Linked DNA regions of Homo sapiens. Each later gene encodes a partner of the first gene's protein in a complex. Each region holds a gene or a part of one and is shown in the gene's direction. Other genes may lie near its edges. The genes, in order: TBL1X, GPS2, CORO2A and ZER1.

Region 1 (7,789 bases):
TTCTTTCTTTCTTTCTTTCTTTTTTAAGAGACAGAGTCTTGCTCTGTCACCTAGGCTGGAGTGCAGTGGCACGGTTATAGCTCACTGCAGCCTTGAACTCCTAGGCTCAACTGTTCCTCCTGCCTCAGCCTCCCAAGTAAGTAGCTGGGACTACAAGCTCAGATCACCATACCCAGCTAATTTTTTTATTTTTGTTTTTTGTAGAGATGGGATCTCACTGTGTTGTCCAAGCCGGTCTTGAACTCCTGGGCTCAAGTGATTCTCCTGCCTCAGCCTTCCAAAATGCTAGGATTACAGGTGTGAGCCACAGCATTTGGCACAGTGTTTCTTTTTTAAAAAAAAATAAATAATAGGCTTTTTTTTAAGAAGAGCTTTAGATTTGCAGAACAACTGAGCCGATAGTGCAGAGTTACATGTTTCTCTCCCCAGCTTCCAGTGTTATTAACATCTTAAGTTAGTGTGGTACATTTGTAACAACTAAGGAGCCAGTATTCATATATTATTATTAATTAAAGTCCATAGTTACATGAGGGTTTCCTCTTTGTGTTGTACATTTTGTGAATTTTGACAAATATATATACACACACACACTTATATGTATAATAACGTGTATCCACCATCATAGTATTACACAGAATAGTTTCACCACTGTAAAAACCCACTGTGTTCCACCCATTCATCCCTTCTTCCTCCTTGAACCCCTGGCAACCACTGATCTTATTGTTGTCTTATCTGTTTCCCCTTTTCCAGAATGTCATATGGTTGGAATCATACAGTATATGGCCTTTTCAGACTGGCTTCTTTCACTTAGCAATAGGCATTTAAGGTTCCTTTGTGTGTTTTGGGGGCTTGATAACCCATTTCTTTGTAGTGCTGAGTAATATTCCATTATGCGGGTGAGCCACAGTTTGTTTATCCATTCGCCCAGTGAAGGATACTTTGGTTGCTTCCAGTGTTTGGTGATTACGAGTAAAGGTGCCATAAACCTCTGTGTGCAGGTTTTTGGAGCACGTAAGTTTTCAGCTTAGTTAGGTAAATACCTAGGGGCACAACGGCTGACTGTATGGTAAGACTCTGTTTGGCTTTGTAGGAAATTGCCGAACTGTCTTCTGAAGTAGCTGTACAATTGTGCATTCCCATTAGCAACAAATGAGAGTTGCTGTTGTTCTGCATCCTGTCAGCATCTGGGATTGTCAGTTTTCTGGATTTTAGCCATTCTAATGTATGTAGTAGTATCTCATTGTTACTTTAACTTGCAATTCCCTAATGATATATGATGTTCAGCATCTTTTCATATGCTTACTTGCCATCTGTATATCTCTTTGATGAGTTTTTTTCTGATCGTTTGCTCTTTGATTCAGTTGTTTATTTTCTCATCGTGGAGTTTTAAGAAATATGTATATATATATACACATACATATACACATATGTACATATATCTGTACACGCACACACACACACACACACACACACACACACACACTCTAAAAAAAAATTAGAGACAAGGTCTTCTCTGTCGCCCAGGCTGGAGTGCAGTGGTGAGATCACAGCTCACAGCAGCCTCAACAGGTGTGAGCCACTATGCTGGCCTGCATATTTCAAATACAATCCTTAATCAGATATGGAATTTGCAAATATTTCCTCCCATTCTGTGACTTGTCTTCTCATTCTCTTAACAGTGTCTTTTGTAGACTTTTCAAATTTTAGTGATGCCCAACTTACCAATTTTTTTTTCTTTTACGCATCATGCTTTTGGTGTTCTAGCTACACAGTCATTACCAAACCCAAGGTCATCTAGATTTTCTATGTTATCTTCTAAGAGTTTTTATAGTTTTGCCTTTTACATTTGGGGGTATGTTCTATTTTAAGTTAATTTTTGTGAAAGATAAAAAGCCTAGTTTTTTTTTTTTTTTTGGCATATGGGTGTCCAGTTGTTCCAGCACCACTTGTTAAAAAGGATGAATTGCCTTTGCTCCTTTGTGAAAGATTAGTTAAGTATATTTGTGTGAATTCCTACTGCCTTTTAATTAAAATTTTGGGTACTGTTTATGGGGAATGCTGGTAGTATTTGTTGCAAGCAGATTCTTGTTTTCCCCTCCCTCCAGTCAATAACTGAAAATAAGTGTTTGCAACACACACACGCGCACACACGCACATGGCTAGTGCAGTGGGTTTCTGTGTAAATCACTGTGGACCCCTCGCCCTGTTATCCTTTAGCTTTCTCAGAATACACTACCTCCTTGCCGCTCTACTTTATTTCCTTGTTTTCTCCCACCTTATAGGACTGCACATTTGAAAAATCGTTGAAACAGATTAAATAACACAGTCTAATTATCACCCACCTACAGTCCATCTAGTATTTCAAAAAGAGGAATTTTGGTGATTTCACGATAAATGTAGGCGGTCTCTCTTCCTGTCTTAGGTCTTACAGTGTCCTTTGGGGTCCTGTGAGTCTATGATAAAAGATATTGACTCTTTACGGGTAATAAGGGTGGTGGGATTATGGGGATATTGTCAAACAGTCAAGATGAATTCTCAGCTCTTTTGCATTGTCAATTACAGGAGCTCAGCTGTAAATCCTGGCCACACTGGGCTCCAGTTTGAAAGTGAGGATTTCCACCACTTTCCCATACTTTAAAAGACTGGCATCTGCCAAGTAATCAAAACACACAAAGAGGCCTTTTAACCAAGTTTAGCTTGGAATTTCCAACTGCTAACCACAAGCAGGTCTGGCAAGCTAGGAGGCTGGTTGGCTGCGCAGCTACTCCAGAGTGTGCGGTAGCCGAGGGCTGCGTCCGCGTAAAGCCCAGAGCTGTAATGATGTCAACTTGTTATTTACTTTCCAAATCTGAATGACTGAGCAAGGCGAAAGGAGAATCAATCAACCACAATGTGACCCTACAGGCGGAAAAAACGCAGCACTCCCACCAGCAGGCGGTGGGGGAAGGGAAGCACGTGTAGCCAGGGCAGGGTTGCATCATGAGCTCGTTCGGGTTTTCTATTGCACCCTTCGTTTTTCTATTGCATGTAATACCTCAGCATCAGTCTGCACAAGCCCAGGGAGCCCAGGAGCAACGAAGGGCAGGCTCAAGGGAAGGCCCCACCATGTCCTTCTGGGGGGCCTTGAATGGCAACTGATACATAATAAGACACAATCTATTCTGCTGATTCACAATTATGGAGACTGTGTAAGTGTGTATTTTTTTATTGATGTCCTCTAATGATGGTGTAGCAACAGTCGTTTTGCATCATTGACGTTTTACAGCAATATTTTGCAGGGTAATTTTGAGGTCCGCCGTTTTGGTGGAGGACCGGCCTCTTAAAAACTCACCTCCGGCCGGGCACGGTGGCTCACGCCTGTAATCCCAGCACTTTGGGAGGCCGAGGCCGGCGGATTGCCTGAGGTCAGGAGTTCAGACCAGTCTGGCCAATATGGTGAAACCCCGTCTCTACTAAAAATACAAAAAAAATTAGCTGGGCGTGGTGGCATGCGCCTGTAATCCCAGCTACTCGGGAGGCTGAGGCAGGGGAATTGCTTGAACCAGGGTGGTGGAGGTTGCAATGAGCCGACAGCGCGCCACTGCACTCCAGCTTGGGCGACAGAGCGAGACTCCTCAGAAAAACAAAAACAAAAACAAAAAAACAAAAACCTCACCTTAGGTCCCCCTCCCCCTACAACCAGAACAACAAATGGTCTAGAGTTCGAGGAAGAGCAAGTGAGGTTATAGTTTAGATTGCTGAGTGTACCGGGCTCTTAGCACGAAGCTCATTATATAGTAAAGGAAGGGGCAAGAATATTTGAAAAATATTCAACGAGGCTGACCCCAGAGGTGCTGGGGAGGGGGAGTGGAGATCTGTTTAACTGAATTAAGGCTGCGAGTGGTTGGGAGTAGCCTACGTGGAGGGGAGGAAGGAGCGCTGGGGACTTAGGTACACCGGGGCCAGGCCGTGTAAGCCATTGCAACATAAAGCACTTTGCAAGGGCCAGAGGGCTGATGCCTGGGGGGTTGGGGTGGGAGTGATGAGGCCCGAGTGCCCAGGTCCCCCCAACCTCCTCAGCCCCCACACCCGAGTTCCTGGCGCCTATGCCTGTGTGTCTGAGTTTGTCCCTAAGCATTTCTGGCTCTTCTTGGGAGGTGTTTTGCAAAGGTCGAGGCTCCGCCGGAACCCCCACTTTTTGAGCTGGGGTAAAGACTACTGGGGTGTCTTCTAAGACGCCGATTTTGAGGGAGATTCACCATCGGGCAGGTGGCAGGGGGTTCTGTTGGGGCAGCCGGGTGGCTTCCTTTTTGGGGTGGGGGAGGGTAACACTTTAGCAGTGATCGAGGTTCCCCTGCCCCCTAGAAACTGAGGGGGTGGCCGAGGTTCCCGTCCCCTCGAGGCAGTCGTGGAAAGGCTGGGTTTGGGATGTGATGGGGGTAGCCCTGGGGTCCTCTCAGTCCCACGGAGGCCACGGGGAAGGGACCGGGACCAGAGCAACTAGGGAGAGGCCCGGGTTCCCCTCACCCACCCTAGGCGTGGGGGAGCGGGGCGGGCTTGGTAGGGACGCTGGTCCCCCGACCGTGGGACAGGGGCTGGGTTGGGACGCGGGTCCCCACTAGGAGCCGCGGGGGAGGGGCAGGGCCGGAGTCCCTACCCTCGTAGGGGAGGGGCTGGTTCGGGACGCGGCTCCCCCGGGGCGCAGGGGCGGGGCCGGGTGGTACGCCGGGTCCCCTCCCACGGCCGTGAGGGAGGGGCCGGCGGCGGGGGCGGACCCCTGGCGGTCCTCCTGGCTGGGGTCCGCGCGCTCGCGGCAGCTCCCCGTGGAGGTCACTGTCCGTGCCAGTCCCTCCCGCTGTCCCGCCCTCTCCCGCTGCCGCCGCCGCCGCCGCCGCGCCCGCCTCAGCGCCCCCACTCCGCGCTTGGGAGCGAGGAGCCGCCAGCGCCCCCGCCCCGCCGCCGCCGCAGCGCCCTCAGGCCGCCATTCGCCACCGAAACTTTCCAGCGCCCGCGCTCTCTCCGGGACTCGGCGGCGGCGGGGCGGGGGCGGCCCGGGGGCGGCGCGCGGCTGCTCCGGGGCGCCGGGCCCTCTTCGGCCGCCGCACGGCCGGGACTCGGAGGCTGCCGGCTGGAGGGAGGTTCGGAGCGCGGCCGGGCGCGCGGCGCCGCCACAAGTTGCGCTGCTCGCGACGAGGTGAGTGCGCAGGGCTCGGCGGGCCGGGCGCGGGGTCCGCAAACTTCTGCGGGGAGGCGGGTCCCGCGCTGACCCTCCAGGGTCCGGCCGGCGGCTCGGGGCGCCCGAACGCTCCACCCGCCCCTGGAACTCCTGTAGGTGCAGGTCGCCAACTGTCCCCGCGGCGCTCGGACTGGGGTGCGGCGCGCTCCCAGGAGCCTGAACAATACCCCGAGGTGGCCGCTCCCCGAAGTGCCGGCGCGCCTTGCGGGGAGAGACGGAGGTCGGCGGGGGGCTCCTTTGTTTTGGGGAGGGGGAAGTGGCCGGTAAGTTTAGGGAAGCGCTCGGCTTTTCCTCCGGTGCCCCTTTGTCTGCCGATTCAGGGGCTTGCTGGGCAAACCTGCGCCACCGCGGGCTCCGGGGACCGGGGTGGAGGGCGGTGGCGGGATTTCCCCGCTGTTGGGGAGAAGAGCCCCATTCATACCCGGGACGCGGGCCGGCCCTCCCGGACCCGGGTGGAAGCGCAGCCTCGCGGAGTGGGGCAAGCGGCGGGCGAGGTGGCGCGGGCCCCGTGTCTGCTCAGTTTCTGACGCGCAGAAACTGTCAAGGAAGTCGGGAGCCCCAGTCCTCCGCCCATCTCCCCGGCCTGAGCGCACGGCTGGGCTGGGGGCACCCTTGGCCCGTCGAGGGTCTGCAGAGCGCCGCCCGGGGAGAGCGCAGACCTGTTGCTGCTCCTGGGCTCTGACGGGGCGGGTGGGGTGGGTCTCGCAGATCCTGGGCCCCGGCCTTGCTATCCAGGGGGACCTTCCCTAACGATGGGACCGGTGCTCGGAGTGGAGTATGGGGAGTGCGCCTTCGGGAGTCGGCGCTGGCCGGATATGTGACAACTGTGGGTCGCTGGAGGCCCGCCTGCGCTGGGATAGGGCCTGGACTTCACGTGCGTCGCCTGTGTTCCGTCAGACCGGGGCCGGGGCTCGCTCCCTGCAAGGCCTCGTGTTCCCCCAGCCAGCTGCGTTGGACGTTCCACAAAGGTAGGGACTGACGTTTATTCTCGAGTCAGTGATGTTCTGGAGCAAAACCTAAAAAGAAACAAAAACCTACCCTCTATTGTATTTGCAACTGTTTCTGCTTTGCATTGTCATGTGTGGTTTGACCTGCCTTTTGGATGTTTTCCTCTCCTGAAACATCGCCCAGTCCCTGGTTTAACCTGGAAGGCGAGGGGGAAGGAAGGCAACCTCCCTGCTAAGGTTCCAGGCAGTGGCTTTGGTGTTGGAAGTGGCACTTGACGATTTTATGAAAAGTTTACAAGTCCTTCCTAGAAAAGATGTAATTAGGAAAAATAAAATACAGAAGAACGTTGAGTATGACGCGTTTATTTTAAAGGGTAGTCCTGTCTCAAATGTGCTGCACATTTTTGTGGAAAGCCACCAAGCTGGGTAACTAATGCAAACAACAAAAGTTGTTCATCACTGGATCACCGGCCCTTAAGGCGATTCCAGCCCTTAGTAGAACACACACCTGTAGGGCAAATATGGAGATTTGTGGTGTAGTGCTGCCACCCTCGCTCCCCAACTCTCAGGCATTTTGCCCCTTTACCTCAGAGAACTTCTCTCTGTCAGTGGTTTTAAAGAGGAAACAGTTTGCAAAAATAACTTTATTGTAGACATACTTAGAAGTGAATGTTTCAATTTCTGGAGTTTTCCCATCAATTATATCAGTACCACTGGTTCTGTACAACATCATCTTAGTTAGAAGATTTTTTTTCACCTTTTAAGGTGACGAACAGAGGCGGGAAAATGGTCCCTGCAGAGGGAGGCCATCTCCAGCAGGTCCCGAGGGTCAGGAATTCAGATTATCCGATCTACTCCTGCTGGATAGGAGCACACCTCCGCTAGAACCTGGGTCCGGCCCCCTCCCAGTTTTCTGCAGGGCGTCCAGATTCCGGTGCTCTGCCCCGCAGCAGTGCCCTGTGGGCCTCCTGGCTTAGCTGATCAGCACAGCTTCTCTGCCCAGCGAGGCAGGACCATCCTCCCACTGCTTTCCTGATGCCTTGGATTTGCTTTTTTTCCTCCCTTAGGAAAAGCAAAAAAACCTAATATGCTACATCCGAGAAGTTGTTAATCTTTCACTACCACATGCATTGAAAAATCAGTTCCACCCAGGAAGCAACACTAAAGGCATATTGTAAACACTTTTTTTTTTTTAGTTGGAAAGATAAACTTTTTTCCCCCATAACTATTTTTAGTTAGCCGGAGACTGGACTCGAGTTTTTACCTCCGGTCTTGCCCCCTCCACTCCCGCCCTCACTTTCTGTGGGGCTCGACCACATGGACCATGCTGGCCAGACTGGCAAACATGAAACCCACCAGAACCAAAAGAAAAGCTGGATATGGGAAGGGGCCGAAGAAGTCCACATGTTTCTAAAGGGCAAAGAGCCTAGGCTGAGGAGAGACGTTTCAGATCTCCAGGGGAGAAAGACAGCCGTTAAGGAGTCCGCCGGGCTGCTGCCTGCCTGGCCAGCGGGAGCCTGACTTCAGATGCCTGCGCCTCCCAAGCTGGCCCCCTCCCACACAGCCATCGCCATCCAGTATTTAGGGAGAATCCACCGCATGCCTGAAGGTTGCAGAAGTGAATTGG
Region 2 (7,793 bases), on another chromosome or scaffold:
AAGAAAAAAAGGCCAGGCTCAGTGGCTCATGCCTGTAATCGCAACACTTTGGAAGGCCGAGGCGGGCAGATCACGAGATCAGGAGATCAAGACCATCCTGGCTAACACGGTGAAACCCCGTCTCTACTAAAAAATACAAAAAATTAGCCGGGCGTGGTGGCGGGCGCCTGTAGTCCCAGCTACTCGGGAGGCTGAGGCAGGAGAATGGCTTGAACCCAGGAGGCGGAGCTTGCAGTGAGCCGAGATCGCACCGCTGCACTCCAGCCTGGGCAACAGAGCGAGACTCCGTCTCAATAAAAAAAAAGAAAGGAAAAGAAAACTAGCTAGGTGAAGGAAGTCCTAGGAATAAGAATCCTTAGAGATCCTTACAGAGGCAACAGCAAGGTCAAGGCTCAAACAGCATGTTTTTTTTTTGTTTTTTTGTTTTTTTGTTTTTTTTGAGACGGAGTTTAGCTCTTGTCGCCCAGGCTAGAGTGCAATGGTATGATCTCGGCTCACCGCAACCTCCACCTCCCGGGTTCAAGCGATTCTTCTGCCTCAGCCTCCCAAGTAGCTGGGACTACAGGCATATGACACTACGCCCGGCTAATTTTGTATTTTTAGTAGAGACGGAGTTTCACCATGTTGGTCAGGCTGGTCTCAAACTCCTGACCTCAGGTGATCCACCCACCTCAGCCTCCCAAAGTGCTGGGATTACAGTGTGGGTCACCATGCCCGGCTGGCGGTTCTTTTTTTTAAAAAAAAAAAAAAAAAAAAAAAAAAAAAGAGGGAAAGAAACAACTAAATTAGCGTTTTCTGGTCCTTCCAAGCATAAGAAAAGGCAGCATCCCAGGCCACATTCTGGGAGGTGCAGTATTCCCTCTCTGGCTGGGGTGCGGAGCCTGGTTCTTCCCAGGAGGCTGTGATTATGGAGTAGTTCTTTCTTCCCCAGGTGCGGATAGATTTCCTAAACCGACAGTGGACATCTTCCCTTGTCCTGGGAGTCATCACCTGCGCGCCTGAGAGGCTCAACTTCCCTGCTTCTGCCTGTGCCCTCAAACGGGCAGCCTGGCTGCTGCGGGGCCGTGGGGTCTTCCACAACGGTCTCAAGGTGAGTAGGAGCCAGAGAGAAGGAACAGGACCAGGCCTGTGAGTAGAGAAGGGCTGGCCAGAAGGGAGAAGTGGGCCCCTAGCCTTGGAGGTAGGACCACAGGTGTAAAAGGGGAACAGTAATGGGCAGGCAAGGGCGAGTAGCATTGCCTGGTCAGTCTTAGGCCTGCTGCTTCCTGCGGTGTCCCTGCCATTGAGAATGTGCCAGTTTTGGGGAAGGGGAGGGGCTCTAGGTAACTGCAGTGGGAGGAGAACCTCGGCAGTGGGCAAGCATGGAGGCAAAGCCAAGGCACTGGCAAAAGGAAGCAGAGCAAAGGGCGGGACAGCTGCCGCGGTGGAGTCTGACCTCTGGAAGACAGCCGGTCTCTCCTCCCAGATCTGCGAGAAGTTTGGGCCCAATCTGGACACGTGCCCTGAAGGCACCATCCTGGGACTGCGGCTGGACAGCTCTGGGGGGCTGCATCTTCATGTTAATGGGGTGGACCAGGGGGTAGCTGTGCCAGATGTGCCCCAGCCCTGCCATGCGCTTGTGGACCTCTATGGGCAGTGTGAGCAGGTTAGTGGCAGTGGGGGCAGGGAGGAGGGGTGCCTGAGAGTCTGCGCTGTCCAGGACAGGGGAAATCTCTGTTCCAGGGAGGGATCAGCAGGCCCTGGGGTCTGACCAAGCTCTGTCTGACTACCCTCTCCCCTGCAGGTGACAATCGTGAACCCTGAGCCAGGGGCTGCCAGTGGGAAAAGTGCTGGAACCCAAGGGGACATGGAGAAAGCAGACATGGTGGACGGTGTGCCAGCCCAAAGGGACCCAGCTCCTGCCCCTACTCCCCCACCCTCACCCTTCTAGCCCAGCTCCTGTGACCTGTGCCCCTCTGCTCCCTCAGGTATCAAAGAGAGTGTGTGCTGGGGTCCACCACCTGCCGCTAGTCCTCTAAAGAGCTGCGAGTACCATGCCCTTTGCTCTCGCTTCCAAGAACTCCTGCTGCTTCCCGGTGAGTCCCACAGTCCGCCAGAACTGACTTCATTCCCAGGGCCAGGCCTAGAGCCTTGGAGAGCAGCTGGAGGGTGCCACTGTGGTTGAGGTGGGAGCCACAGCACCAAGCCTGCTACTCACTGTCCCGCAGAAGATTATTTCATGCCTCCGCCAAAGCGAAGCCTGTGCTACTGTGAGTCTTGCCGGAAGCTGCGAGGAGACGAGGCCCACAGGCGCAGAGGGGAGCCTCCCCGGGAATATGCACTGCCCTTTGGCTGGTGCAGGTTCAACCTCAGGTACATATGGGCAAGGTCATGCCTTTCCCCTACTGTTTTCCCCCTGGAGAAACGGGGATCCCAAGAGGGTGCATGGAAGAAGTAATAGAACTTCCTGTCTAAGGAAAAGCCAGGAAGTGCCAGGGACTTCCTGTCTAAGGAAGAGCCTCGTGAAGCTCCTCCACTGGGGAGTCAGTGGCCTTCGTTGTATCTGCCCCGCTTGTCCACCTCCTAGAGTGAATCCCCGCCTGGAGGCTGGGACACTAACCAAGAAGTGGCACATGGCATATCACGGGAGCAATGTTGCCGCTGTACGGAGAGTGCTGGACCGAGGGGAGCTGGGAGCAGGTACTGGCGAGTAGGCCCATGCAAGGTGGGCTGAGCCTGGGGGGCTGTGGAGGAATAAAAAGGGCTATCCTGACCCAGTTCTCCTCCCAGGTACTGCCTCCATCCTGAGCTGCCGTCCTTTGAAGGGAGAACCTGGGGTAGGGTTCGAGGAGCCTGGCGAGAACTGTGCACCTCCTCGGGAGGAGCAGCCCCCTCCTGTGCTGCTTTCCCCCTCCCTTCAATATGCTGGGGCGGAGACCCTGGCCTCCAAAGTGCAGTGAGTACTGGGAGGGGTGGGGAGAGATTTCCAGGGGCTCGGATGGAGAGGGCCCAAGCGCAGCCACTGGGGTCTTCATGATTCGCCCTCCCCTTTTCTCATCTCGTCTTGCTAGCTGCCAGTCTCCAACTCAGCCCTTTCTTCATTCATTGAACAAATACTACTTATATACTCTTCTAGTGGGCAAAAAAAGGAACCTTGCTCTTGTGGAACTTCTGCCTTTTCTCTCTACAATGTTCATACGTAATAAGTATTATTTATTTATTTATTTTTATTTTTATTTTTTTTGAGACGGAGTCCTGCTCTGTCACCCAGGCTGGAGTGCAGTGGCGTGATCTCACTGCAACCTCCACCTCCTGGGTTCAAGCGATTCTCCTGCCTCAGCCTCCTGAGTAGCTGGGACTACAGGCACGCACCACCAAGCCCGGATAATTTTTGTATTTTTAGTAGAGACGGGGTTTCGCCATGTTGGCCAGGATGGTCTCGATCTCCTGACCTCGTGATCCGCCCACCTCGGCCTCCCAAAGGGCTGGGACAGGCGTGAGCCACCGCGCCCCGCCAGTATTTAGTATTTTTAAAGGTAATAAGTAAGGACTATGGAAACAGAGAAAGAATGGGGCGGAGACAGCAGTGCGGTTGGTGTGGACATCCTAAGAAGGTGGGAGAGATTCGAGCAAAGGCTTGAAGAAGGAAGTGAAGGGTGTAGCTGAGCAGGCTTTGGGAGGAAGAGCATTTCAGGTAGAACAGCTAGAGCGAAGTTCCCATAAGGTGGGAGTATTTCCTAGGTACAGCAAGGCTTGTGTGGTTGGAACAGACTTTGCAAGGGGGAGGTGATGGGGCGAGAGGCTTCACTCCCTTATTTTTTCTTGTCTGACAGATTCCGGGACCCCAAATCCCAGCGGACGCACCAGGCTCAGGTGGCGTTCCAGGTGTGTGTGCGCCCTGGCTCCTACACCCCGGGACCCCCTTCCGCTGCCCTTGGAGAACCTCCTGACCCTCACTTCAGTCCAGCCGAACTTGAGTGGGTCACTAAGGAGAAGGGGGCCACACTCCTCTGTGCCCTGCTGGTACGGGTGGAATGAGGGGTGAGACACCACTACTACAAGCACAGTCGGGCCGCGGGCCCATGGACTCTGAGTGGCGACTGCCTCCACCTCATTCCCGTGACTCGTGGCATGCGCAGGTGCTGGAGCTTGGCAGCCGCGCAGGAGCATGTAGGCAGGCTCTCAGATGTAGGTGGCAAGTGGCACAGCTCCATGTCCGGAGGCCCAGCACTCCGTCTGATGGGAGGAGTCGTGGGAGCCCAGCTCCAGGCCCTGGTACCCCTCTTCATGCACTGATTTGGGGAACATGACTCCCTTTTACTCCCCTACCCCACATCACTTAATTTATTTCCGTTTTTGTTTCTGGTTACTGTGAATCCCAGAGGAGTCTCTCCCTGTGCCCACATGAAGCTGCTTTTTCCGGGGCCACCGGGCGGGAGTGGGGAAGGGTGGGCGCACGGAAGATGGGGGCCTCTGTACAGTTGTTACTGACTCTGATTTCTAAGGAGCCAATAAACACCGTCTCAGAGCCTCCGCCTCGGCCTCTCTCTCGCGCGCCCCTCTCCGGAGCCCGCGTCCCCTGGGGTGCCACCAGGTGGGCCCGCGAAATTAAAGAGAGCTGAGGATGCCAAGGCCAGTCTGCAGCCGTCGTCGCTCACGTTCCCGGCGACGGGGTTTGTACGCCGCGGGCACCCGTCGCAGCGCGCTTCCGCCTTCTTTCACCTGTGAGGTCGGCCGCCGCCGTGACTCCGGAAGGACTCGGCCGGGCCGCCGGATGTGACGCAGGGGCCAGGGCGCGTCGGAGCCGCTGAGAAAGCGCAGAGAAGGCGGGTAGGAAGGGCAGTCGTCCGCGCTGGCTGGGCAGGGAGCGGCAGCAGCGAGCCGGGGACCCCGGCGCCGCCCGCGCGCGGTGGGACTGGGGCTGCGGTCCCGGCCGGGTGGCGGGCTCCTGGGACACGTGACCGGGGCGGCGAGCGGGCCGGGCGGACGGGCTTCCGCCTGGGCCGGGCGCGGCCCCCTCTGAGCGCCCGCCTCCCCGCAGGCCCCGTCTGAGGTCTGGCAGTCAGAGACAGCCGGGCGCCCACGGCCCGAGCGCCCACGGCAGCACCATGCCCGCACTCCTGGAGCGCCCCAAGCTTTCCAACGCCATGGCCAGGGCGCTGCACCGGCACATTATGATGGAGCGGGAGCGCAAGCGGCAGGGTGAGCCGGGGCCATAGCAGGGGGACGCACGGCCCAGAATGGCTCCTGTACCTCAAGGCTGGCCTCAACCCACCGGCCAACCAGCGCGCCCGCTGCCGAGCGCAGAGGAGGGAAGGAATAGCCCCGTTGTGGTGGGATTTAAGCGTCCTGTTCCACGCTCCAGAACCCTTGAGATGGGAAGGACCTTGGAGAGCACCTGATAAAGCCTTTCCGTTCCCTATTGCCGCGATGGGGAGCTTGTCCCCTCGAGGCAAAGAGCATACAGGCGTGTTGGGATGACTGGGTTTTGCTGGTCTTCAATCTGTAACGTTGGAATTGTTTTCACTACCCTGCCTCTTCTTCATTCTGCCTGATTCTCCAGAGGAAGAAGAGGTGGATAAGATGATGGAACAGAAGATGAAGGAAGAACAGGAGAGAAGGAAGAAAAAGGAGATGGAAGAGAGAATGTCATTAGAGGAGACCAAGGAACAAGTAAGCAGTCCCTTGAACTTTCCCAGCTTTGATTTCTTCGTTTGACTCTCCCTGCCTTCATCTTCTTTTCCCACCCCATCCCAGATTCTGAAGTTGGAGGAGAAGCTTTTGGCTCTACAGGAAGAGAAGCACCAGCTTTTCCTGCAGCTCAAGAAAGTTTTACATGAGGAAGAAAAACGGAGGCGAAAGGAACAGAGGTGGGATCAGAGTGCTAAAAACTGAAATGGGGGCCAAGTGGAACTGGGATCAGGTAGTAAAAGAACCAGTGTTTAATGGCAAAAGAGAAGGCATCTGTCCTTGACTTTGACCTGTCTTCCTTTCACTCCAGTGACCTGACCACCCTAACATCAGCTGCATACCAGCAGAGCCTGACTGTTCACACAGGAACTCATCTCCTCAGCATGCAGGGTGAGGACTAAAGAAACCACCAGATGGAACCGGCCTTCTTGGAGGTCACAGCCTCCCATTTCAGCATCATGAAGCCCTTCTCCCTTTCTAGGGAGCCCTGGAGGACACAATCGCCCAGGCACCCTCATGGCAGCTGACAGAGCCAAACAAATGTTTGGACCCCAAGTGCTTACGGTGAGAGTAGGATTGGATGCCTAGCCCCTAGTACTTCCATCCATGCATCCTTGCCACCAGTATTCAAGTCACAAACATATCAAGCACTTAAGTTTAGGGGGAAACGGGGCATACAGATACACACAAGTCACTGGGTTTCAGCTTTCAAGGAGTTTGTAGGCGAGTTCTCATTCTCCTTCCTTAGACCCGGCACTACGTGGGCTCAGCAGCTGCTTTTGCAGGGACACCAGAGCATGGACAATTCCAAGGCAGTCCTGGTGGTGCCTATGGGACTGCTCAGCCCCCACCTCACTATGGGCCCACACAGCCAGCTTATAGTCCTAGTCAGCAGCTCAGAGGTGAGTAATAGGAGGGATGGGGCTTGGCCTTCCTCAAGGTCAAAGGAGGAATGCCATTCAGTAAAAGATTTTAATGGCTCTGTCTTTTCCTTTCTCAGCTCCTTCGGCATTCCCTGCAGTGCAGTACCTATCTCAGCCACAGCCACAGCCCTATGCTGTGCATGGCCACTTTCAGCCCACTCAGACAGGTGATAACATCCCATGCAGGAGCTCTAGCTCTCAGGTCCTCCCCTCCCTGTTTCATTCTCATCTCACATGCCCCTCTTCCCCACCTAGGTTTCCTCCAGCCTGGTGGTGCCCTGTCCTTGCAAAAGCAGATGGAACATGCTAACCAGCAGACTGGCTTCTCCGACTCAGTGAGTATGGCACCTTGGGAGGTCAGGGTTAGGGATATGTTAAGGGGAGCTTCAGTATGCCTCAGGCCCTGACTCTGTTCTCTGCAGTCCTCTCTGCGCCCCATGCACCCCCAGGCTCTGCATCCAGCCCCTGGACTCCTTGCTTCCCCCCAGCTCCCTGTGCAGATGCAGCCAGCAGGAAAGGTAAGAATGGTAATAGAATTTACCTGTCAGAATCCCTACACTAGGGATCCGGAAAAGCAGGATTAGGTAGGACAGGTGGCCCACATCATCTGGTTTTTCCTTCCTCTTTGGGGGTGGTTATCAGTAGGGTATTAAGTGGAAGGGAGAGTATGCCCAGTGACAAAGCCCTCTTTTCATCACCACCACCAGTCGGGCTTTGCAGCTACCAGCCAACCTGGCCCTCGGCTCCCCTTCATCCAACACAGCCAGAACCCGCGATTCTACCACAAGTGACCATCAGATTATATCTTCAACACCACACCCCCCACCCCATCGTGGGTGAGGGTATCCCCTGTGTGTCCCAGGCCAATAAAATCTACCTGCCACTGCCCCTGGCTGCTGCTGTTTGTGTTGCCTCCCACCCAACTGTCTGGAATAGGTCAAGGTTGCTTGGAGGGTGGGGGGATGGCTGGCAGGTCCACAGCAAGTCAAAGTGATAGACAGCGGGTTCCAGTGAACTCAGTGGCAGAGTTCAGTCTTTTTGTGGCTTCCAAATACACCCATTTAATTCAAATAAGCAGCTGAGTTGGGGGCTTCATATTAAACTTGTAGTTTTATTCAGGTTTGATTTTAACAAATGTGTCGGGGAGAGAGCCCGCAGGGAAGGGTAAAGCCCATGGGGGCAGGGCCCTCCCAGATGCCT
Region 3 (7,111 bases), on another chromosome or scaffold:
TACTAAACATACAAAAAATTAGCCAGGCATGGTGGTGGGCACCTGTAATCCCAGCTACTCGGGAGGCTGAGGCAGGAGAATCACTTGAACCTGGGAGGTGGCGGTTGCGTGGAGCTGAGGTCGTGCCATTGCATTCCAGCTTGGGCAACAAGAGCGAAACTCTGTCACAAAAAAAAAAAAAAAAAAAAGAATCACCTGAGTAGTTTTTTAAAAATGTTGGTGCTAGGGTCCTATGCCTGGAGCCTGTGGTGGAGCCCAGGCATTCTGATACATGGAAGGGTTGGGGACACAGGACACGGGACACAGGGCTAACTGCCTCCTCAGGCCCTGACAGGGAGCTGGGATTGAGAACTGCTTGTCCTGCAGCATCAACTCACCCAGGCCAAGCTCAGGTTACCAACGAGTAGACAGGGCTCAGAGACATTAGCTAACCTATCCAAAGTGACACAGCCACTGGTTGAGCCATGCTCAAGCCTAGAGCCCTTACTGCAAAGCCAGGGAGGACTCCCCCAGCTTAACCCACCTGTGGAACCTAGAACACCTTCCCCAAGGACCTAGGGAAGGGGCATGCCTGGCCTGTGGCCTCCTGGGGATACCCTCAGAAGATAGTTCTAAGCCAAGGAAAACTAGAGGAAGAATTTCCTCATGGTTGCCTCACGCTGGGATTGTAGCACTATTTCTCCCCTTCATCAGAGACAACAAGAGAAGCATGATACCCACATGGCAAGGAGGCTGAGCAGGGACTGGTGGGCCCACCCCAGAGCATCTGTGCCTGCTGTTGCTGCCCCTGGGGCGCCTGCTTGCCCTTCCCTGCTCTTTCTGGAGGGTGTTTGGGGCCCACTCCTGGTGTCAGGTTCCTGGCCCGCACCACAGCTGTTGCCCCCTTCCCCTGGGGCTGCTGCCTTCCAGGGCTGGAGGATCCGATCCCTCTCAGCCCCACCTTCCCACCCTAGGGGACAGGACCTCATGCTCAAAGCATGCCTTCCCCAGGCCTTAGGCCCCCAGCAAGCTGTGGTCCGACCTGCTCTAAAGGAGAGGAAAAGGGAATTACCCAGGGAACCTCCCTGGGGCAACATCCCTAAGAATAAAGGGACTGGGTCAAAGGAGGTGGAAGGCCCCCCTCCCAACAACCCCTAACATAAGAGGTGCTCACTCACTTCCAGAGATTGCCCGTGTTCAAGGCTACTATCCTCCAAACACAGACCCCTCCCCAACCCCCAGGCACTGTCTCCTCATTCTTTCTCAACCCCCTCCCCCATGGACATGGGGCCATATCGTACAGAAAGTTCCATGTGGGGCAGATAGATGGAGAACTTGCCCCCCACCCCCACCACACACACACATATGTTCTGGTCCTGCACAAGATGTTTACCCACATATGGAAGATTAACAAAGCCAGCCATGTGGGTGCACTGGGAAGGAAGAGGGAGGTTTCCTGGCCCATCCCAATCCACACTAAGGCCTAATAGAAGATGCCAGGAGATGGGCCCAACTTTGGAACCAGATCTGCTATGTGGTTTTCTAGCTAGGGGATCCTGCGTAGGTCATGCCCACTGTGGCCTCAGTTTCCCCATGTGTGCAATCCTGCATCTGGACCAGGATTAGAGGGAGGGAAGGGGCAAGAGAGGAGGACACTCCCCAGCCACAGCAACCCCAGGAAGGGTCCCAGGTTCATTGCAGAGGTCTCCCTCTGGCTTATGGGTCCATATGCCCACAGCCCCCAGAGATGTCTCTGTCAAACCAGCTGTTCCCCAAACAGTCCCAGCCACCAACCACCATGGCACAGGGTAGGAAGATGCAGGTGCAAGCCTTGGAGGGCACATCCATAGGACATCTAGGAAGGCTAGGCCTGGAAGGATGAGTGGGTTTAGACAAGGGAGATGATGATTTGGGAAGAGAACTGCAGACAGAGCAAAGGCTCAGAGATGTCAGAGTGCAAGGCGAGTGGCATTGGCAGAGGTAGAAAGCCACACCAGAGATGCTGGCCCAAGCCCTAAGTGAATTAAGACATTCAAGGCCAGGCGTGGTGGCACGCACCTGTAATCCCAGCACTTTGGGAGGCCAAGGCAGGCAGATTGCTTGAGCCCAGGAGTTGGAGACCAGCCTGAGCAACGTGGCGAAACCCTATCTCTACAAAAAATATAAAAATTGGCTGGGCATGGTGGCACGCACCTGTAGTTCTAGCCATTCGGGAGGCTGAGGTGGGAGGATTGCTTGAGCTTGTGTGGTGGAGGCTGCAGCAAGCTAGGATTGTGCCACTGCACTCCAGCCTGGGCGACAGAACAAAACCATGCAAAAACAACAACAACAAAGTTATTCAGATGCCTTAGCCTGGGAAAGATCATGGTGCCCACCGTCCAGCTGTAATTCAAGTAAAAACCAAACCATGATTATAAAGAATTCCCACAATGTTCTGATTTCATCCATATGTTTGTTTGTTTGTTTGTTTGTTTGAGACAGAGTCCCACTCTGTAGCCCAGGCTGGAGTGCAGTGATGTGATCTCGGCTCACTGCCACCTCCACCTCCTAGGTTCAAGTGATTATCCTGCCTCAGCTTCCCAAGTAGCTGGAACTATAGGCACATGCCACCACGCCCGGCTAATTTTTGTATTTTTAGTAGAGACAGGTTTTCACCATGTTGGCCAGGCTGGTCTTGAACTCTTGAGCTCAAGCAATCCACCTGCCTTGGCCTCCCAAAGTGCTGGGATTACAAGCATGAGCCACTGCGCCCAGCCATCCATATGCTTGATACCCAACTCTTGCACGCTAACACCAGAAGCATGCGTTCAGTCTACCTGCTGGGCAATCCAGCTCCAGAAGGTCTGAATCAGAGCTGTAGGATGGGGTTTTCAGGACCATAGTGCACACTGGGCTTTGGGTGGTAGGCAGGGAGCCCGTCCAGCTCTGGGCAGGGGGGTGGTACAGTGGACTATGGAAGCTGAGTCACATTCTAAGGAGAGAATCAAGAGCTCCCTAAGTACCTTGCCACTCCAAGCCTCAGTTTTCTTATCTGTAAAATGGAGGTAATAATAGTGGCTAAATAAAGCCACTATTATTAGAAGCTTAGAAGAAACGATACAGATATGTAAAGTAGTAACAGTGTACTCTGTTATCCACTCCACAACTATATATTGAGTGGTTACTATGTGCCACGGAGCAGTTCAAGGCCCTCAAGATAACCCGTCTCTACTGAACAAAACCAAGAGCTCTTCACAGACGTGGTGTGGAGTGGAGTGGCTGTTAGCTTAGTAGCCGTGGGAGCCATACTGCCTGGGGTTGCATGACTAGCCGGGTGATCTTAACCTAGGTACTTAATATCTCTGTGCCTCAGCTCTTTTGTGTTAAATAGGTGAGTAATGGTATCAACCTCATAGGCCTGTGTGACAGTGAAGCGAGGTAATGCACAGAAGGCGCTTAGAGGAGTGCGTGGCTCAGTAGTGTTAGGTGGGGGTGGTACCCAAAGGTAGGGCCTCCCCATTGTCTAGTGTCCTCAGGGCTCTCCAGCCAGCGAGGCTGGCAGCAGCGCCCCCGGCTGGTCCCGAGAGAAGGAAGGGCGTCCTCCTCGGTTCCCAGCGGCGCTCCCGGCTCCTCTCCTCCCTGCGGACGGGGAAGCCTCGGTAACCGCTGTAACTGCTCGGGGAAAGGAGCGCTTCCCTGGCCGGGCTCGGCGCGCGCACTGTACCCGGCCGGGATCGTCACATCCAGGGCTCAAACAGCCTTAAGAGGCCGACGCGGTTACTGTCTCCATTTCACAACGGGGGAAACTGAGGCTCCGGGAGGTCAGGTTCCTCATCCCACACCACGCAGCGAGGGCACGGCGCGACGTGGGGCCCGCGGCTCTGCCTGTCCCCAGCCTCCGCCTGGTGGCCGGCAGCCCGCCCCAATCACTGCGGCGTGTGCGCGCCTGTTCCCAGCACGTGTGCGCGCCCCGAGACCCGCCCCGGGGAGCCAGGAGCGCGGTCGGGGTCGTGGGGGCGGAAAAGGGTGGCCAGGGCGGACCCGCGGGGCGGGCAAAAGGGCGGACCTTGGGCCAGGCCCCCGCCCCGCCCTCCGGCCCCGCCCGCCGGGCTGCAGGGGGAGGCGGCGGCGGCTCTGGGCGCCGGGAGTCGGCGGGCGGCGAGGAGCGCGGAGCCGGAGCTGGACGCCGCCGCCGCCACCGCCACCTGCGCGGCAGTCATCAAGGTAGGGCGGCCCTGCGCCGCCGGCCGTGCCTTCCCGGTCTGCGCGATGGGGGCGTCGGGCGGGACGTGCGCGCTGCGGCTGCAGCTCCCGGAGAGGGAGGGATGCGGGGCTCGGAGCGCGGGGGACCTGGCTTTCAGCCCCTTTGCGTGACCTTGCACAAAGCACTGCTCCTCTCCAGGCCTCAGTTTCCCCGTCAGGATAGCTTGCTCATTGGTGGCCCCCTTCTCGCGGGGTTGTTGGGAGGGGCCGCCTCGAGGTCCGGGCTCCCGACGGCTCGCTGCCCTCATGAGCACTGTCTGCACCGCCCACCCCTCCTGCCCGCGGTGAGGGAAGCTCACTCTGGGCGCGGCCAGCCGGTCCCGACAGGCCCCTGCTGTGGCCCGGGTGCTCCATGGGACTCTTGTCGGGACCCTCCCCCTCTTGGCTGCGTTACCTGCTGGGCCTCAGCTTCCTGGTACAGGAAACGGTGGGGTGGGGGGCATCCCCGGGTCCCCGCCAAGCCGGCCTGGGCGTGCATGTGGGGCATCAGCCGGCCCGCCAAGAGGGTTTACTCGTCTGGGGCTGGAGGAGCCCTAGGTTGGAGGTGGCTGGACTCCTGGCGGCACGACTGCCTGGACCAGCCCCACGTAGGCACCTCGATTTAGAGAGTGGTATAGGATAGCTCCTTCCCCTTCCCCACCCGGGCCAGGTGCTGGTGCCTAGCTCTGTGTCCCAGAGCTAGTGTGTGATAAGGTGTGACACACACTAGCTGGTGTGACAAGGGGTGACTGGCGGCCACGCCTGGACCTCAGAGGGGTGACAGTGCCAAGGTGCTGTGTCCGCGTGGCATTAAGGGATGGGGCAGAGCACAGGTCTGAGGGACTGTGGTCCCAGGCTCCCTAGGTAAAGAAGACCTATGGCATCTGGCCCAGCCCCTCTGTAAGATCCCCTCTGGAAGGTCTTGCTGCCCCCTTGCACACTCCTTGTGATAGGAATCTCACTAGTTGTAAACCAAGCTGGAATCTGCTACCCAGTCACTGCCTCTCCTGCTGGTCCTGCTCTGGACACACAAACAACCTCTGACCCTTCCTCCCTCACCCTGGGGCAGTGGTCAGGTCCCTTAAATATGCTCATCTCCAGACCCAGCAGCCCCAGGCCCAGCAGTTTCTCCCATCAGATCCCAGGGAGCCAAGGCAAGAAGAGGGAGCCGAGGTGTCTGCCCTGGAGCAGGCTGTGGGGCCTCCGCTTTCCTGGGGCTTGTTCAGAACCCACCTGTGCATCAGGACTGGAATGTGTCTCCCCAGCTTCCTGCCCCTCCTGGGGACCGTCTGAGAGGTCCGGAGTGAGGAGAGCCGGAGCCCCTCTGCAGGCCTTTCCTGCCCCATGGGGCCTCTTCTCCACCTCCCTGATGCCTGCCCTGTTTGAGGGAGCAGTTTCTAGGAATCACTTCTCAGCCTCCTGGTCTTTCTTGTCCCCTTCATGACCTGCCCTGCACCCAGGGATTTTCTTAACAGCCAAAAGAGGGCAGGAGGCCCCTGGACAGGTAGTGAGCTCTTTGTCATCACAGGTATTCAAGCAGAACCTGGGGGTGAGCTACCTTGGACTGAAAGTCTATGGAATTCTAGGGCTGAAGTAGTGCCTATGACCTTGCCCTGCGGCCATGGTGGAGCTGCACAGGACTGGGAGCTGGACCACAAATGAGTGTTATTATCCCCTCGTAAAAGCAGGCAAAGTATATGTGCTGGCCCATGAGCCCAGCTCCGACGCACAGGCTTAAGTGCTACCTGGGTCTCCTGTCATCTCGACACATGTATAATCTGGGCCCTGTTTTCCTGCTTGCCTAATTCAAGCCTTTTTGGCCTGATTTAGGAGCATGGCAGATTCTGGTTATTAAAAAGTCATGCTATGACTTTAATTGCTAATACTTTTTAAATGCACCATGGAATCATGGAATGTCTGAGCTGAAAGGAGCCTTCAGACGTCGTCTCATTCAACCCCCTCATTTTACAGATAGGCATCCCCTGTCGCCAGAGGGGATGTGACTGGGCAAAGGTCACACAGCAAACCAGCAACCGAGCCCAGGGATCCTGATTCCAAGATTGGAGTGCCTTTTTTTCTCCAAAAAAACACATAACATATAATAAATGAAAGCAGTCTGTATTTATTCCTGTAAAATTAGCAAAAATAAAAATAAAAAGATGAAACTCTGTGCTGGCAAGGCTATAGGGATTCGCCTGTGGCATTTAATTTTGCAGAGCAACCTGGCAGCCTGTTATCATGAAAATGATCATATTTGCCCTTTGCCCTTAGCCGGCTACTTTGGGGACTTTATCCTAAGGAAGTAACTAGGGAGAGAGACATATGTAGTGCTGTTATTTGTAAGAAGTTGTCTTCTGGCCAGGCACAGTGGCTCATGCCTGTAATCCTAGCACTTTAGGAGGCCAAGGTGGGCGGATCACCTGAGGTCTAGAGTTTGAGACCAGCCTGGGCAACATGATGAAATCCTGTCTGTACTAAAAATATAAAAATTAGCTGGGTGTGGTGGCACATGCCTGTAATCCCAGCTACTCGGGAGGCTGAGGCAGGAGAATCACTTGAACCCGGGAGGCAGAGGTGGCAGTGAGCCGAGATTGTGCCACTGCACTCCAGCCTGGGCGACAGAGCGAGACTCCATCTCAAAAAAAAAAAAAAATAAAGGAGTTGCCGTCTAGTGAAGAAGTGTTCAGTTTTATCTGAGGCTTAATAAACATTTCATTTGACAAATACAGCTTAAAAAATAGTGGCACTGAAGCTTACATTACCGGAGTCTGGCCAGCATAGAAACAGTTTAATCCAGAAGAAAGACCATGAGACTAAAGTCAGCAGACATAGATTCCAGATTGAAGTCTTCCTCTTCCCTACTGTGTGACCTTGGGCCGATCCGTTCCCCTCTCTGGACCTCACTTTCTCC
Region 4 (7,671 bases), on another chromosome or scaffold:
GAGATGGAGTCTTGCTCTGTCACCCAGGCTGGAGTGCAGTGGCTTGATCTCAGCGCACTGCAACCTCCACCTCCCAGGTTCAAGCGATTCTTCTGCCTGGGCCTCCTGAGTAGCTGGGACTACAGCCACCTGCCACCATGCTTGGCTAATTTTTGTATTTTTAGTAGAGACGGGGTTTCACCATATTGACCAGGCTAGTCTCAAATTCCTGACCTCAGGTGATCTGCCCGCCTCAGGCTCCCAAATTGCTGGGATTACAGGCATAAGCCACTGAGCCCAGCCTACAGTACTTGATTTTCATACGTTGAACCATCCTTGAATTCCAACAATAAATCCCATTCCCACATCTCACTTGGTCATAGTATATTGCTATTTTAATATGCTGCTGAATTTGGCTTGCTATATCGAAACTATATCTTTTTTCAGCCTCTTACTTTGAACCTATTTCTGTCTTTACATTTAAAGTGGGCTTATTATAGGCAGCATTTTGTTGGGGCTTGCTTTTTTAAAAGTAAAAATTTTAGAGGCAGGGTCTCCTTCTGTCACCCAGGCTGGAGTGCAGTGCACCATCATGACTTACTAAAGCCTCAACCCTCTGGGTTCAAGAGATCCTCCTGAGTAGCTGGGACTACAGGCATATGCCACCATACCTCACTAATTTTTAAATTTTTTGTAGAGACAGGATCTCACTATATTTCCCTTGCTCGTCTCAAACTCCTGGATTCAAGTGACCCTCCCACTTTAGCCTCCCAAAGTGAGAGCTTGTCTTTCTTTCTTTCTTTCTTTTCTTTCTTTCTTTCTTTTTTTTTTTTTTTTTGAGATGGAGTTTCGCTCATGTTGCCCAGGCTGAAGTGCATTGGCGCCATCTTGGCTAACCACAAACTCTGCCTTCTGGGTTCAAGTGATTCTCCTGCCCTAGCCTCCCAAGTAGCTAGAACTACAGGCATGCACCACCACACCCAGCTAATTTTTGTATTTTTAGTAGAGACAGGGTATCACCACATTGGCCAGGGATGGTCTTGATCTCTTGACCTCATGATCCACCAGCCTCGGCCTCCCAAAGTGCTGGGATTACAGGCATGAAGGCATGAGCCACTGTGCCCAGCCATTTTTTTTTTTTTTTGAGATGGAATTTCGTTCTTGTTGCCCAGGCTGGAATGCAATGATGCCATCTCAGCGCACTGCAACCTCCACTTCCCGGGTTCAAGAAATTCTCCTACCTCAGCCTCCTGAGTAGCTGGGATTACAGGCATGCGCCGCCACGCCCGGCTAATTTTGTATTTTTAGTAGAGATGGGTTTTCTCCATGTTGGTCAGGATGGTCGTGAACTCCTGACCTCAGGTGATCTGCCCGCCTCAGCCTCCCAAAGTGCTGGGATTACAAGTGTGAGCTGCTCTGCCCAGCTCGCTCTTTTCTTTTTTCTTTCTTTCTCTCTCTCTCTTTTTTCTTTCTCTCTCTCTTCCTTCTTCTTTTCTTTCTCTCTTTTCCTCTCTCTCTCCTTCCTTCTTTCCCTTCCTTCCTTCCTCCCTCCTTCCCTCTCTCTCTTCTTCTTCTTCTCCTCCTTTCTTTCTTTTTCTTTCTTTCTTTCTTTTTCTTTCCTTCTCTCTTTCCCTCTTTCCTTCCTTCCCTTCTTTCTTTCTTTCTCTCTCTTTTTTTCCTTTCTTGTCTTTCTCTCTTTCCCTCTTTCTCTCTCTCTCTCTTTCCTTCCTTCCTACTTTCTTTTTTTTTTTTTGAGACAGAGTCTTGCTCTGTCACCCAGTCTGGCCTCAGCCTCCCAAGTACCTGGGACTACAGGCAAATGCCACTACGCCTGGCTAATTTTTTTTTTTTTTTTTTTGTATTTTTAGTAGAGACAGTGTTTCACTATGTTGTCCATCTTGTCTCAAACTCCTGGCCTCAAGTGATCCGCCCACCTGAGCCTCCCAAAGTGCTGGGATTACAGGCATGAGCCTGGGGCTTGCTTTTCTATGCAATGTGACAAACTCTGCCTTTTACTTAAAGTGTTTAGACCCTTACATTCACTATGATTATTTTCCTGGTTTAATCTAAGCCCATTTTGCTATTTGTTTCTTTTTTTTTTTTTTTTTTTTTGAGACGGAGTCTCGCTCTGTTGCCCAGGCTGGAGTGTAGTGGCGCCATCTCGGCTCCCTGCAAGCTCCGCCTCCCAGGTTCACACCATTCTCCTGCCTCAGCCTCCCGAGTAGCTGGGACTACAGGCGCCTGCCACCACACCCGGCTAATTTTTTTGTATTTTTAGTAGAGACCGGGTTTCACCATGTTAGCCAGGATGGTCTCGGTCTCCTGACCTCGTGATCTGCCCGCCTCGGCCTCCCAAAGTGCTGGGACTACAGGCATGAGCCACCGCGCCTGGCCTGTTATTTGTTTCTTATTTCCTATTTGTTTTCTGTTTTCTTTCTTTTTCTTTTGTTTGAGACAGAGTCTCACAGTGTTGCCCAGGCTGGCGTGCAGCGGCGTGATCTCCGTTCACTGCAACCTCCGCCCCCAGGGTTTAAGCAATTCTCCTGCCTCAGCCTCCAGAGTGGCTGGGACTATAGGCACATGCTGCCACACCTGGATAATTTTTTAAAATTTTTTATTTTAGTAAAGACAGGGTTTCACCGTGTTGCCCAGGCTGTTCTCGAACTGCTGAGCTCAGGCAATCAGGCCACCTCAGCCTCCCAAAGTGCTGGGATTACAGGCGTGAGCCACCAAACCGGGCTTTTTTTTTTTTTCTTGTGAAACAGAGTTTCACTCCTGTTGCCCTGGCTGGAGTGCAATGGCACAATCTTGGCTCACTGCAAACTCTGCCTCCCAGGTTCAAGCGATTCTCCTACCTCAGTCTCCCAAGTTCCCAAGTAGCTGGGATTACAGGCGTGCGCCACTATGCCCAGCTAATTTTTGTATTTTTAGTAGAGACGGGGTTTCACCATGTTGGCCAGGCTGGTCTCAAACTCTTGACCTCGTGATCTGCCTGCCTTGGCCTTCCAAAGTGCTGATATAACAGGCTTGAGCCACGACGCCTGGCCCAAGCAATGTATTAATATGAGAGTTCCCATCTAGCCATATCCTCGTCAACATTTGTTATTGTCTCTCTGATGATGTCCATCTTAAGGAGCATAAAACCGTACCTCCCCACCTCCTGGGCTCAAGCAATCCTCCAACTTCAGCCTCCCGAGTAGCTGGGACTACAGATGCGCACCACCATGCCCTGCTAATTTTTGTAGAAATGGGGTCTCCCTATGTTGCCCAGGCTGATCTCCAACTCCTGGGCTCAAGCCTCAGCCTCGACAACCCCATCTGCTGAGATTATAGGTTGTGAGTCACTGTGCCAAGCCCAACAGCTTTTTTAAGGATTCAAGACTGTACGAACATAGTTGTAGCTGGTCAAAGATTAAAAGGTGCTATGCAAGAAAAAAGAAATCCACAAAATTAGTTCTTGGAATGGAACTGAGGCACCTGTCAAGAAAGGGTTCCTCAAGAAAGGAGCATCTAGCTAGGGTGTGGTAGCTCACGCCTGTAATCCCAGCACTTTGGGAGGCTGAGGTGGGCGCATCACCTGAGGTCAAGAGTTTGAGACCAGCCTGCCCAACATGGCGAAACCCCATCTCTACTAAAAATACAAAAATTAGCCAGACGTGATAGTAGGCGCCTGTAATCCCAGCTACTTGGAGGCTGAGGCAGGAGAATTGCTTGAACCCGGGGAGTCTGCAGTGAGCTGAGGGCCATTGCCCGCCAGCCTGGGCAACAAGAGAGAGAAACTCCGTCTCTCAAAAAAAAAAAAAAAAAAGAGAAATCCAGAGAAGAAATGATGGTGTTTTGAGATGGAGTCTTCCTCTGTCGCCCAGGCTGGAGTGCAGTGGTGCGATCTCAGCTTACTGCAAGCTCTGCCTCCTGGGTTCAAACGATTCTCCTGCTTCAGTCTCCTGAGTAGCTGGGATTAGAGGCGCGCACCACCACGCTCGGCTAATTTTTGTATTTTTAGTAAAGACGGCGTTTCACCATGTTGGCCAGGCTGGTCTCGAACTCTTGACCTCAGGTGATCCGCGTGCCTCGGCCTCCCAAAGTGCTGGGATTACAGGCGTGAGCCACTGCGCTCGGCCAGAAGGAACTGGTTTGACAGGATCCTTAGGACTTGGAGACTGGACGAGGGGCCCAGGAAAATGTAGGGGCCGAGGTCGCCGCCCAATTTCCCATTTGGAAGCTCGGTTGCCTGGTGGCGCATGCCCTAGATGGAGGTTAGGAGCACCTTTTGGGGGACGGTGATGACTGCGGGTTGACACGCGAGTGTGAGCCACCCGTGGAGAACGCAAGACATGTTCAACAGGGCGCTGGATGGAGGGGGCTGGCGCCCAGAGTCAGTCCTGCTATTCAGCAGTGTTGGGCTCAGGTGAACCGCAGCGCCAGGGCGGGCACCGATCCTAGGGTCCCACGAACAGGCCCCTCGGAGGCCAGGGAGAGCCCTGAATGACGCGTTCTCTCGGGTGGCCTGGGGGGGGCATCCCGCGGCTTCCTCCACCGGCGTAACGTGCCGGGCCCGGGGAAAGGAGCCGCCCGCCGGTCCCCGGAACCTTCTGCCGCCGCCGCCCGCGTTAGCCGCGGGACGGGTCGGGGGAACCCGATCGCTGTTGCTAAGGGGCGGCCCCGGAAGTGACGCGCCCCGGGTTTGTTGACAGCGGAGGCGGCGGCGGCTGCAGGCTCCGAGCCGTAGGAGCCGGATCGGGGGAGGGGCCGGGCCCAGGAGCCTCAGCCCCGCCGGCAGCCCTAAGGGCAAGGTAACCGCCACGGGGTCCCCGTCGCGACCCCCTCCCTCCCGGAGCTCCCGTCCCCGGGATCCCAAGCTCCGCCCCGCCGACCCCCGTCTCCCCTGGACCCCGGCTCTAGCCTGACGAGATCCCCAACCTCCTGAGGTGCTCTGGCCCCGGATTCTCCCGGGCTGCATTCTCTGCTCCTCCTCGCCTGCGAAGCATCACGTCCGCTTCCCGACGCTGAGGGCAGCCCCGTCCAGGGTAGGTCCCGGACCCCGGGCCAAGGGACGTACCTGCGTCCTCCTCCTTCGCCTCCTGCCTACGGGGCCTAAGCATCGCCGCTGCAACCACTCTCTGAGGTCCATCTCCGCCAGTGGTGGGAGGGTTCCTTTCTCTATCCCTGCCGCCAGGTCTGAGAATCGTGTCTTTAAAACTGAGCTCCCTTCCTCCAGAAAGAAAATGACGCTCTGTCGTTTGCCCCTACAAGATGGGGGATCGGTGTAGGGCTGAAAGGGCCACCCTCTGCCCCTCCTACCTGTTGGATGAGCTTAAGTTCCCCCAGAGAAGTGCTTAGAAGCTCAAGGACGACTTGGATTCTGGATCAGCTCCCAAAAGGGATGACACAAAGTATAGGGAAATCCAACAGGGTGAGGTTGCAACCGGAGGGCCAAGGGAGCCCGACAGGTGAGTTGATAGTGAAACTGACTGTGCTGGCCACTATAGCTCTCTGGGTGGAACTTGTCTTGGCTGCTCTTTGACCGAAAGAGCCCAAGATTTCCAGTCTTTGCCTGTGTTTGTCAGTCCATTCGTTTTGTTTTGTTTTGTTTTTCTTTAAATAGAGATGGGGTCTCACTATGTTACCCAAGCTGGTCTCGAACTCCTGGGCTCAAGTGATCCGCCCGCTCCAGCCTCCAAAAGTGCTGGAAATACAGGCATGAGCCACCGCGCTCAGCTAGTGCATTTGATTTTTAAGGGGGAGGGGAATGGAATGTCTGATGTCTTGGGAAAATCCTTCCATATATGATCTTTCACAGAATGTTTCTCTTCAGACTTCAAACTGGTTAGGATGAGCATAAAAGCATAGCCTTGAAAAGGGTCACGGGAGGCTATACTTAGAGCAGAAAGTGGTGGCCAGGGGTGAAGGGCCTCGCTACTTTGGTTCATTTGTTCATTCAGCAAATAATAAACATGATATGTAAGGAGGTAATAAGTGGTTTGGAGAAAAATAGAGAAGGAAGGACCATGGGGAAGGAGTTGGGAGTTGTCATTTTATAGAGGGTGTTCAGGGAAGGTCTCTAGTAAGGTGACCTTTGAGCAGAGATAAGTGAGGGAGCAAGCCAGGTAGTTCTCTTGTGGCAGAGCATTCCGCAGCAAATGCAAAGGTCCTGTGGTCATATGCCTGGTGATTTGAAGAAACAGCATAAGGGCTCACGCTTGTAATCCCAGCACTTTGGGAGGCTGAGGCAGCCGGATCACCTGAGGTCAGGAGTTCAAGACCAGCCTGGCCGACATGGTGAAACCCCATCTCTACTAAAAGTACCAAAAAAAAAATTAGCTGGCCGTGGTGGCTCATGTCTGTAATCCAAGTTACTCAGGAGGCTGAGGCAGGAGAATTATTTGAACCTGAGAGGTGGAGGTTGCAGTGAGCCGAGATTGTGCCCATTGCATTCCAGCCTGGGTGACAAGAGTGAGACTCTGTCTCAAAAAAAAGAAAGAAACAGTGGGAGGATGGGGGACTGGAGCAGGTTGAAGAAAGGGAAGAGTGGTTGGCAAGAAAGTCAGAGAACAGTGGGGACCAGAAAAAGGTGGGGAAGACATCAGGGGCTGTCCTTGTGATACAGGGTCACAGGGTGTCTAATGGGACACCCTTTCAGAACCGTACTTGTTGAAGTGTCTGGTGGTTGGAGAAAATACAGATTTGTTTTAGATGACAAATGGCCATTGTGCTTGGGGCTTCGGTTGTAAGTACCCTTCTTCCATCTTTGTAATGACCATTGATGGAACAAATACAAAGAATCATGGTCACAGAGAACTGCGATTAAATCAAGTTAAGTTATGCCGCTGCTTCCTGGTTGTGAGAAGGTGGGCACGGGACCTTTTTCCACCTCAATCTTCTCATCTGGAAAATACAGCAGGCTGGGTGTGGTGGCTCACACCTGTAATCCCAGCACTTTGGGAGGCAGGTGGATCACCTGAGGTCAGGAGTTCGAGACCAGCCTGGCCAACATGGTGAAACCCCATCTCTACTAAAAATACAAAAATTAGCCGGGTGTGGTGACGCATGCCTGTAATCTCAGCTACTGGAGAGGCTGAGGCAGGAGAATCGCTTGAACCTGGGAGGTGGAGGTTGAAGTGAGCTGAGATCATGCCACTGCAGCACTCCAGCCTGGGCGACAGGAGCGAAACTCCATCTCAAAAAAAAAAAAAGAAAGAAAGAAAAGAAAAGAAAATAGGGCTGTTGGATTAGATAAAATCATGGGCTGAAGTGCTTAATGCAGTATTTCACACAAAGTGCTCAATACATAGCGGTCACGCTGATGAGGATGATGTGATGATGAGGAATGTGGGCATGTATGTCTGCCTCAGAGCCGTTCGTTTTAGCACTAGCTGGTGGTGTCACCAGCTCTAGCTGCCTCCATCAACTAGTAGGATTTGAGGAAATATTGGGGAAAGCAAGACAGAAACTTCTTGACACCCCTCAGAGGTAACTGGGTTAATATTCTGCAGAGAAGACGTTAGCTTGGTCCTGGCTTTTCTGACAGCAGCGGAGGGTGATGGGGACTTTTAAAAAAGAGCCCAGCACTGCCAGCGCTTTGGGAGGATCGCTTGAGGCCAGGAGTTTGAGACCAGTCTGGAGAACATAGGGAAACCCTATCTCTAAAAAAAAAAGAATTAAAATGAGCCCAGCAAATTTCCATTCTACCAC

What was found.
Region 2: TBL1X (region 1) and GPS2 share a complex: the UniProt entries of both Homo sapiens proteins name them as parts of the N-Cor repressor complex.
Region 3: TBL1X (region 1) and CORO2A share a complex: the UniProt entries of both Homo sapiens proteins name them as parts of the N-Cor repressor complex.
Region 4: TBL1X (region 1) and ZER1 share a complex: the UniProt entries of both Homo sapiens proteins name them as parts of the E3 ubiquitin ligase complex.

Annotation. Positions count from the first base shown.
Region 1 is NC_000023.11:9,460,275-9,468,063, forward strand, and holds the start of TBL1X (F-box-like/WD repeat-containing protein TBL1X), read left to right. Parts: upstream 1-4,783; 5' UTR 4,784-5,173; intron 5,174-7,789. UniProt on the Homo sapiens protein: F-box-like protein involved in the recruitment of the ubiquitin/19S proteasome complex to nuclear receptor-regulated transcription units. Plays an essential role in transcription activation mediated by nuclear receptors.
Region 2 is NC_000017.11:7,312,347-7,320,139, reverse strand, and holds GPS2 (G protein pathway suppressor 2), read left to right. Parts: upstream 1-4,779; 5' UTR 4,780-4,809; intron 4,810-5,020; 5' UTR 5,021-5,087; coding exon 5,088-5,181; intron 5,182-5,542; coding exon 5,543-5,652; intron 5,653-5,736; coding exon 5,737-5,849; intron 5,850-5,980; coding exon 5,981-6,060; intron 6,061-6,151; coding exon 6,152-6,234; intron 6,235-6,418; coding exon 6,419-6,572; intron 6,573-6,670; coding exon 6,671-6,760; intron 6,761-6,848; coding exon 6,849-6,928; intron 6,929-7,015; coding exon 7,016-7,111; intron 7,112-7,300; coding exon 7,301-7,384; 3' UTR 7,385-7,479; downstream 7,480-7,793. Other genes in the region: NEURL4 (neuralized-like protein 4), read left to right, coding at 932-1,090, 1,466-1,645, 1,784-1,871, 1,968-2,075, 2,208-2,352, 2,567-2,679, 2,770-2,935, 3,813-4,017. UniProt on the Homo sapiens protein: Key regulator of inflammation, lipid metabolism and mitochondrion homeostasis that acts by inhibiting the activity of the ubiquitin-conjugating enzyme UBE2N/Ubc13, thereby inhibiting 'Lys-63'-linked ubiquitination.
Region 3 is NC_000009.12:98,189,630-98,196,740, reverse strand, and holds the start of CORO2A (coronin-2A), read left to right. Parts: upstream 1-4,103; 5' UTR 4,104-4,182; intron 4,183-7,111.
Region 4 is NC_000009.12:128,768,916-128,776,586, reverse strand, and holds the start of ZER1 (protein zer-1 homolog), read left to right. Parts: upstream 1-4,659; 5' UTR 4,660-5,006; exon of another isoform or gene 5,007-5,429; intron 5,430-7,671. UniProt on the Homo sapiens protein: Serves as substrate adapter subunit in the E3 ubiquitin ligase complex ZYG11B-CUL2-Elongin BC. Acts to target substrates bearing N-terminal degrons for proteasomal degradation with the first four residues of substrates being the key recognition elements.